Linked DNA regions of Homo sapiens. The protein of the gene in region 2 interacts with the protein of the main gene of each other region in a pairwise test. Each region holds a gene or a part of one and is shown on either strand. Other genes may lie near its edges.

Region 1 (3,500 bases), on a different chromosome or scaffold from region 2:
ACTATGGGGCCAGGCGTGGTGGCTCACACCTGTAATCTCAGCACTTTGGGAAACAGATGGGAGGATTGCTTGAGCCCAGGAGTTCGAGTCCAGCCTGGGTAACATGGTGAGATTCTGTCTCTCTGAAAACAAAAATAAAAATAAATTAGCCAGATGTGGTAGTATGTACTACTTAGGAGGCTAAGGTGAGGGAATTGCTTGAGCCCAGGAGGTTGAGGCTGCAGTGAGCTGTGTTTGCACCACTGCACTCCAGTCTGGGTGACAGAGTGACACCCTGTCTCAAAAACAAAACAAAAACCCCAAACCCGTGCAATACTATGGAGCAGGCATTCACAGTGCAATTTTCGGTTGAGGAATCCGAGGCTCAGAGTAGTTAAGAATCTTGTGCAAGAAAGAAATTTATAACTGTAGGCCAGGTACAGTGGTGTATGACTGTAATCCCAGCAATTTGGGAGGCTGAGGCAGGTGTATCACTTGAGCTCAGGAATTTGAGACCAGCTGGGCAAGATGGTGAAACCCTGTCTCTACAAAAAATTACAAAAATTAGCCGGAGGTGGTAGTGCTTGTCTGTAGTTTCAGCTACCCAGGAGGCTGAAGCAGGAGGATTGCTTGAACCCGGGAAGTTGAGGCTGTGGTGAGCCATGATCAGCCTCGGTGACAGAGTGAGAACCTGTCTCAAACCGAAAAAAAAAAGTTGTTCTTCAAAAAAGATCACTATAATTGACAACTGTTAATTAGATTGACTAAGAAAGAAAGAAGATTCAAATTACTAAAGTCAGAAATGAAAGTAAAACATTACTACTAATTCTGCAGAAATAATAAGGATTATAAGAGTACTATGAGTAATTGAATGCCAACAAATTGGATAACCTGGATGAAATGAACAAATTCCTAGAAACACAAAACCTGCCATGATAGAATCATGAATAAATAGAAAATCTGAATAGACCTATAACCAGTAATGAAAATGAGTCGATAAAAGCATTTGACAAAATTCAACATTCTTTCATGCTAAAAAACACTGAAACTAGGAATAGAAGGAAATTCTCAACATAATAAATGCTACATGTGAAAACCCCCAGCTACCATCATAGTCAATGGTGAAAGATTGAAAACTTTTCCTTTAAGATCAAGAACAAGACAAGGATGCCTGCTTTTGCCATTTCTATTCAATGTAGTATTGGAAGACCTAGACAGAACAATTAGGCAAGAAAAAAAAAGCATCTAGATTGGAAAGAAGTAAAATTATACCTGTTTGCAGAATACACTAACTTATATATAGAAAACCCTAGAGATTCCACAAAAAAACTGTTAGAATAATAAATTTAGCAAAGTGGCAGGATACAAAATCCACATGCAAAAATCAGTTGTATTTTTGTATACTAATAACAATTCAAAGGAAAATTAAGAAAAAAATTCTATTTATAAGAGCTTTAAAAATACTTAGAAATAAACTTAACCAAAGAGGTGAAAGATTTGTACCCTGAAAATACAAAACATTGCCAAAAGAAATTAAATAAGACATAAATTGAAAAGACACCCCATTTTCATGGATTAGAAGACTTAATATTGTTAAGATGACAGTACTACCCAAAGTGATCTACAGATTCAGTGCAATCTCTATCAAAATTCCAGTAATATTTTTTGCAGAAATAGAAAAATTCATTCTAAAATTTATATAGACTCTGAAGGGACCATGGATAGCCAAAGCAATCTTGAAAAAGAACAAAGTTGAAGGGCTCACACTTCCTGGTTTCAAAATTTTTTACAAAGCTATGGTAATCATCACACCTGTAATCTTAGCACTTTGGGAGGTGGAGGCGGGTGGATTGCTTGAGCTCAGGAGTTTGAGACCAGCCTTGGCAACATGGTGAAACGCCATCTCTACAAAGAAAAGCAAAAAAACAAAACAAAACAAAAAAACCCAAACAACAACAATAAAACAAACAAACAAAATCCAAAAGCTACAGTAATCAAAACAGTATGGTACTGGCAAAAAGAAATAGAAACCAGTGGAATAAAATATAGAGCCCAGAAAGAAATGTTTGCATACATAGCCAAATGTTTTTTGACAAGGGTGCCAAGATCATTCAGTGGGGAAAGGATAGTCTTTTCAACAAATGGCATTGAAGAAACTGGATATCCATGCAAAAGAATGAAATTGAACCTTTATGTAACACCATATATAAAAATTAATTCAAAATGCATAAAAGACCTAAATGTAAGAGCTAAAACTATAAAGCTCTTGGAAGATAGAGTGAAAACTTTGGAACATTGAATTTGGCAATGATTTCTTGGCTATGACACTAAAAGCATAGGCAACGAAAGAAGAAGTAGAGAAATTGGACTTAATGAAAATTAAAAGCTTTTGTGTATCAAAGCACATTATCACAAAAGTGAAAAGACTTCTTATAGAATGGGAGAAAATATTTGAGAATCATATATCTGATAAGGGATTAATATCCAAAATATATAAAGAACTACTGCAACTCAACCAAAAATCCCCAAACAACCTAATTAAAACATGGGCAAAGGACTTGAATAAACATTTCTCCAAAGAAGATAAATGGCAAATAAGCACATGAAAAGATGCTAAATATTGCTAATCATTAGGGAAGTGCAAATCAAAACTCCAATGATATACCACCTTATAACCATTAGGATGGCCATTATAAAAAACAAAACAAAACCAGAAAGCAACAAATGTTTTTGAAGATGTAGAGAAATTGGAACTCTAGTGCATTGCTGGTGGGAATGTGAAATGGTATAGCCACTGTGGAAAATGGTATGATGGTTCTTCAAAATTAAACAGGATTACCATTTGATCCAGCAATTCCACTTCTGAGTATCTATTTAAAAGAACTGAAAGCAGGGATTTGAACAGATATTTGTATACCCATGTTTGTAATAGCATTATTCATAATAGCCAAAAGGTGGAAGCAACCTAACTGTCCATAGATGGATGAGTGGATAAGCAAAATGTGATGTATCTATCTACACAGCATAATATTATTCAGTCTCCAAAAGGAATGAAATTCTGATACATTCTACAACATAGATGGAGCTTGAAGACATTGTGCTAAATGAAGTAAGCCAGACACAAAAGGACAAATATTGCATGCTTCCATCTGTATGAGAGGTACTTAGAATAGTTAAATACGGGGTGGGCAGAGTGGCTCATTCCTGTAATCCCAGCACTTTGGGAGGCCGAGGCTGAGACCAGGAGATTGAGACCAGCCTGGGCAACACAGTGAAACCCCAACTCTACAAAAAAACTTAAAAACTTAGCCAGGCATGGTGGTGCAACCTGTAGTCCCAGCTACTCTGGAGGCTGAGGTGGCAGGATTGCTTGAACCCAGGGGATTGAGGCGGGAGTGAGCTTTGATCACACCACAGCACTCCAGCCTGGGTGACAGAGTGAGACCCTGTCTCAAAACAACAAAACAAACAAAAAAACCCAACCAACCAAAAAAAACCAACTAAGTATATGTATATTTGAT
Region 2 (3,603 bases):
GTTGGTGGTGAACTATGGAGTAGAGGAAGGCAAGAGAAGATAGGGTGGGGATTAAGTGGTAGACATTAAGTTGACTGGGGCAGCTGTCTAGGACTGGGTTGTAGTAATGGGGATGGAGAAGAGTGGATGAATTTAGGAACAGTTGAGGGAAAGATGGTGTGGTGAAGGAAGCCAGGTGAGCAAGCAGGTCTAAGCGGGAAAGCATTGCTTTTCCTACAGGAATTTTCCTGTGCATTCAGGCTGTAAGGATCTCAACTTTTAAAAAAGCCACATTGTTCTCCCAAGTTGTTGGGGAGCTGGTTCACCATTGACTTCTGATCTCTGGAGATATTTTCATAATCATGGAGCTGTCTTTCTTTTCACTCTTTTACTCTCTTTCTAGACAGGCTTCTTGGATACCAAGGGTTGGTGGTGGGTGGGGGGAGGTTCTGGGGATGGTTAAATTTGCCTGGGCAGCCTCAAAGTTCAAAAAGGAGGGACAGGGAAGCTTAGCTAAGAACCAGGAGTTTGACATACTTAATCTCTCATTTCATCCTACTGATGACTTTGTGAGGTATATCTTTTTAATCCTAGATCTACAAAAGAGAAAGCTGAGGCTTGGAGAGGTTCTTCATTTTGTTCAAAGTCATACAACTTTTACGTGGTGTAGCCAGGATGGGAACCAGAGCCTGGCTCTCTGCACTTCCAACACCACTGCTGAATCCGGGTTTGTCTGTTTTCCCTCTCTTCTTTTAACTATTGTCACACAGATTCCATCATAGAACCCATCACGTGGAGGGCCACTATTTCTCTTTCTTTTGTATAGTATGTTTGCTTCCCCTACCCCACAGAGTAAGGTGCTCAGCAAATGTGGCTGTCTGGAGGCAACACCCCCTTCTCACCGCCACACTTGGGGTTGGGGTGCGAGGCAAGGCAGGGCTGGCGAGGTGGATGTTGCAGCTGTCACCACTGCTAGGTGTTGGGAAACGACTCTCCTGCCTGTGCATTGACCCGAAGGCATTTTCCATTTCCTAGGCCCCTCCCGCTTCCCGTCCCTCACCTCTAGCCCCTCGGCTTCAGCTCAGGCCCCTCGGGGAGCATCCCTTGCCGTGAGACTGACAGCCTTTGGGGGCGCAGGGTCCTGTTCTCTGCGCTCTAGCCCATCTGTGCGCAGAGCCTCGTTCCCAGGCGCCTGGAACCCGGCGGGCATTGACGTCAAGCGCCGGCGGAGCGCTGCCTACAGACGGTTGACCCGGGCCCTCCTCCACACCCCCTTCCTTCTTCGCCTCCTCCCTCTTTCCTGCACGGGGGCTCGGGCTCACTATAAAAGGTGGGAGCGCGTGGTGCCCCAGCAACGACGAGTTTCAGAACGATGGAGAGCTCCCGCGTGAGGCTGCTGCCCCTCCTGGGCGCCGCCCTGCTGCTGATGCTACCTCTGTTGGGTACCCGTGCCCAGGAGGACGCCGAGCTCCAGCCCCGAGCCCTGGACATCTACTCTGCCGTGGATGATGCCTCCCACGAGAAGGAGCTGGTCGGTATTCCCCTCGCTCTCGACCCCCTTGAGCTGTCGCCTTGTCTCTTCTCTTGCACGCCTCCCTCCTCCCCCCACCCCCACTCCTATTCCCAGAGTCAGGGCGCGGGGAGCTGAGCGCAACGCCCAGGCACCCACTGCCATCCGAAGAGCGTCTCGAGCTCACGGGCTCCTGGCAGTCTGTTGAGCGAATCCCTCATCCCGGCCCCTCTGAGCAACAGGGACCCCAGCGGCTCAGAGACCCGCGGTCAGTACCTGGGACAGCGTCCGCTAAGTTTCCACCCCTCGACCATTCCCTGTGTCCGCGGAGTCCCACCGCAGAGTGCGTGTGGGTCCGGGGCTCCTTATAACTAGGGCTGGAAGTGCGCACCTGGGCTGGGCTCGCAGCCAAGGCGGCAACTTCAGGCTCCGAAGCGGTGTGTTGCAGATCGAAGCGCTGCAAGAAGTCTTGAAGAAGCTCAAGAGTAAACGTGTTCCCATCTATGAGAAGAAGTATGGCCAAGTCCCCATGGTAAGGTTTGTGGTCACTCCCTTCCCGTGTTTTTCCAAGAGAAAGTACACCGCCTTGAATCGTACACACAGTCTTCTCCGTAGGATGTGGCTAAATAACTTAGGTAATGGGCTTGCAGGATTCTGTGGGCTCCTTCTTCCTTCCCGGGTGAGGAAATGGGAAAGCAGGAACAGGGGTTGTAAGAAAGTGTAAGTCTATTGTTTGTTGCTCAGGAAAAAGGTCTGATTTTTTTCCCCTCTGAGAGGGCAAGAAAAGGAGCCAGGAAATGTGATGCTCCCCTTCCCACGCCCCCCAACCCTCGCCACTTAAAGGTGGAAGAAACTAGGATAAAACTAATAATGTAAGTTTCTTTAAAAAATGTACTCTCACTGAGGTTATAAGCACAAGGCTCCCTGTTTCAGATCTGACTGTACGTAGACCTCTTGTGATGGTGATGGGGTCCAATTGCCCCTTTCAAGAGACAGAAATTGCGTTGACTGTGAGACTTGCCTGTTGGGAACCTGGGTTTGTTCATACTCGATGACCACACATTTTGTTGTTTCAGTGTGACGCCGGTGAGCAGTGTGCAGTGAGGAAAGGGGCAAGGATCGGGAAGCTGTGTGACTGTCCCCGAGGAACCTCCTGCAATTCCTTCCTCCTGAAGTGCTTATGAAGGGGCGTCCATTCTCCTCCATACATCCCCATCCCTCTACTTTCCCCAGAGGACCACACCTTCCTCCCTGGAGTTTGGCTTAAGCAACAGATAAAGTTTTTATTTTCCTCTGAAGGGAAAGGGCTCTTTTCCTGCTGTTTCAAAAATAAAAGAACACATTAGATGTTACTGTGTGAAGAATAATGCCTTGTATGGTGTTGATACGTGTGTGAAGTATTCTTATTTTATTTGTCTGACAAACTCTTGTGTACCTTTGTGTAAAGAAGGGAAGCTTTGTTTGAAAATTGTATTTTTGTATGTGGCATGGCAGAATGAAAATTAGATCTAGCTAATCTCGGTAGATGTCATTACAACCTGGAAAATAAATCACCCTAAGTGACACAAATTGAAGCATGTACAAATTATACATAATAAAGTGTTTTTAATAATTGCCCATAGTGCACTGCTGTTTTCATATAAGTAATTTAAGTGGAAATGGTGAGATTAATCATGCTGTTGTTTTCAAAGAAAAATATTTTAAAAATAGCAGCCTATTGGGAAAATGGCACCTTAGCTCCAAGGAGTTTTGATCGTTAATTAGAAGTTTGCCAAGCCAGTTTTAGTATACTCTATTTTTCTTTGATTGCAGCGATGTGGTGTGTGTATGTGTGTGTGTATGTGTGTGTGTGTGTGTGTGTGAGAGAGAGAGAGAGAAAGAGAGAGATGAATGAGATGGAGATGGTTGGAGTTGAGGTTATATAATTTTGTTTATTAAAACCTTTAGCCAGACCCTTTACTTTAAACAGTGAGACCAATAAACTATAAACAGTTTCATGTTTTAGTCACATTAAAAGCAATTTGAAAAATTAGAAATTTTGTTTTGACAACTCCCTTATTAGAAAATATACATTGATTTAAAGATATGGGCTGTTTAGGGTTGTTATTTGTCTA

The links.
Region 1: the proteins of CARTPT (region 2) and CEACAM1 interact in binary tests that used the Homo sapiens proteins (3 or more experiments, as listed by UniProt).

What each region holds. Positions count from the first base shown.
Region 1 is NC_000019.10:42,514,982-42,518,481, forward strand, and holds part of CEACAM1 (cell adhesion molecule CEACAM1 isoform 1 precursor), read right to left. Parts: intron 123-3,500; coding exon of another isoform or gene 30-122; intron 1-29.
Region 2 is NC_000005.10:71,717,943-71,721,545, forward strand, and holds CARTPT (cocaine- and amphetamine-regulated transcript protein preproprotein), read left to right. Parts: upstream 1-1,332; 5' UTR 1,333-1,351; coding exon 1,352-1,510; intron 1,511-1,937; coding exon 1,938-2,021; intron 2,022-2,565; coding exon 2,566-2,673; 3' UTR 2,674-3,103; downstream 3,104-3,603. UniProt on the Homo sapiens protein: Satiety factor closely associated with the actions of leptin and neuropeptide Y; this anorectic peptide inhibits both normal and starvation-induced feeding and completely blocks the feeding response induced by neuropeptide Y and regulated by leptin in the hypothalamus.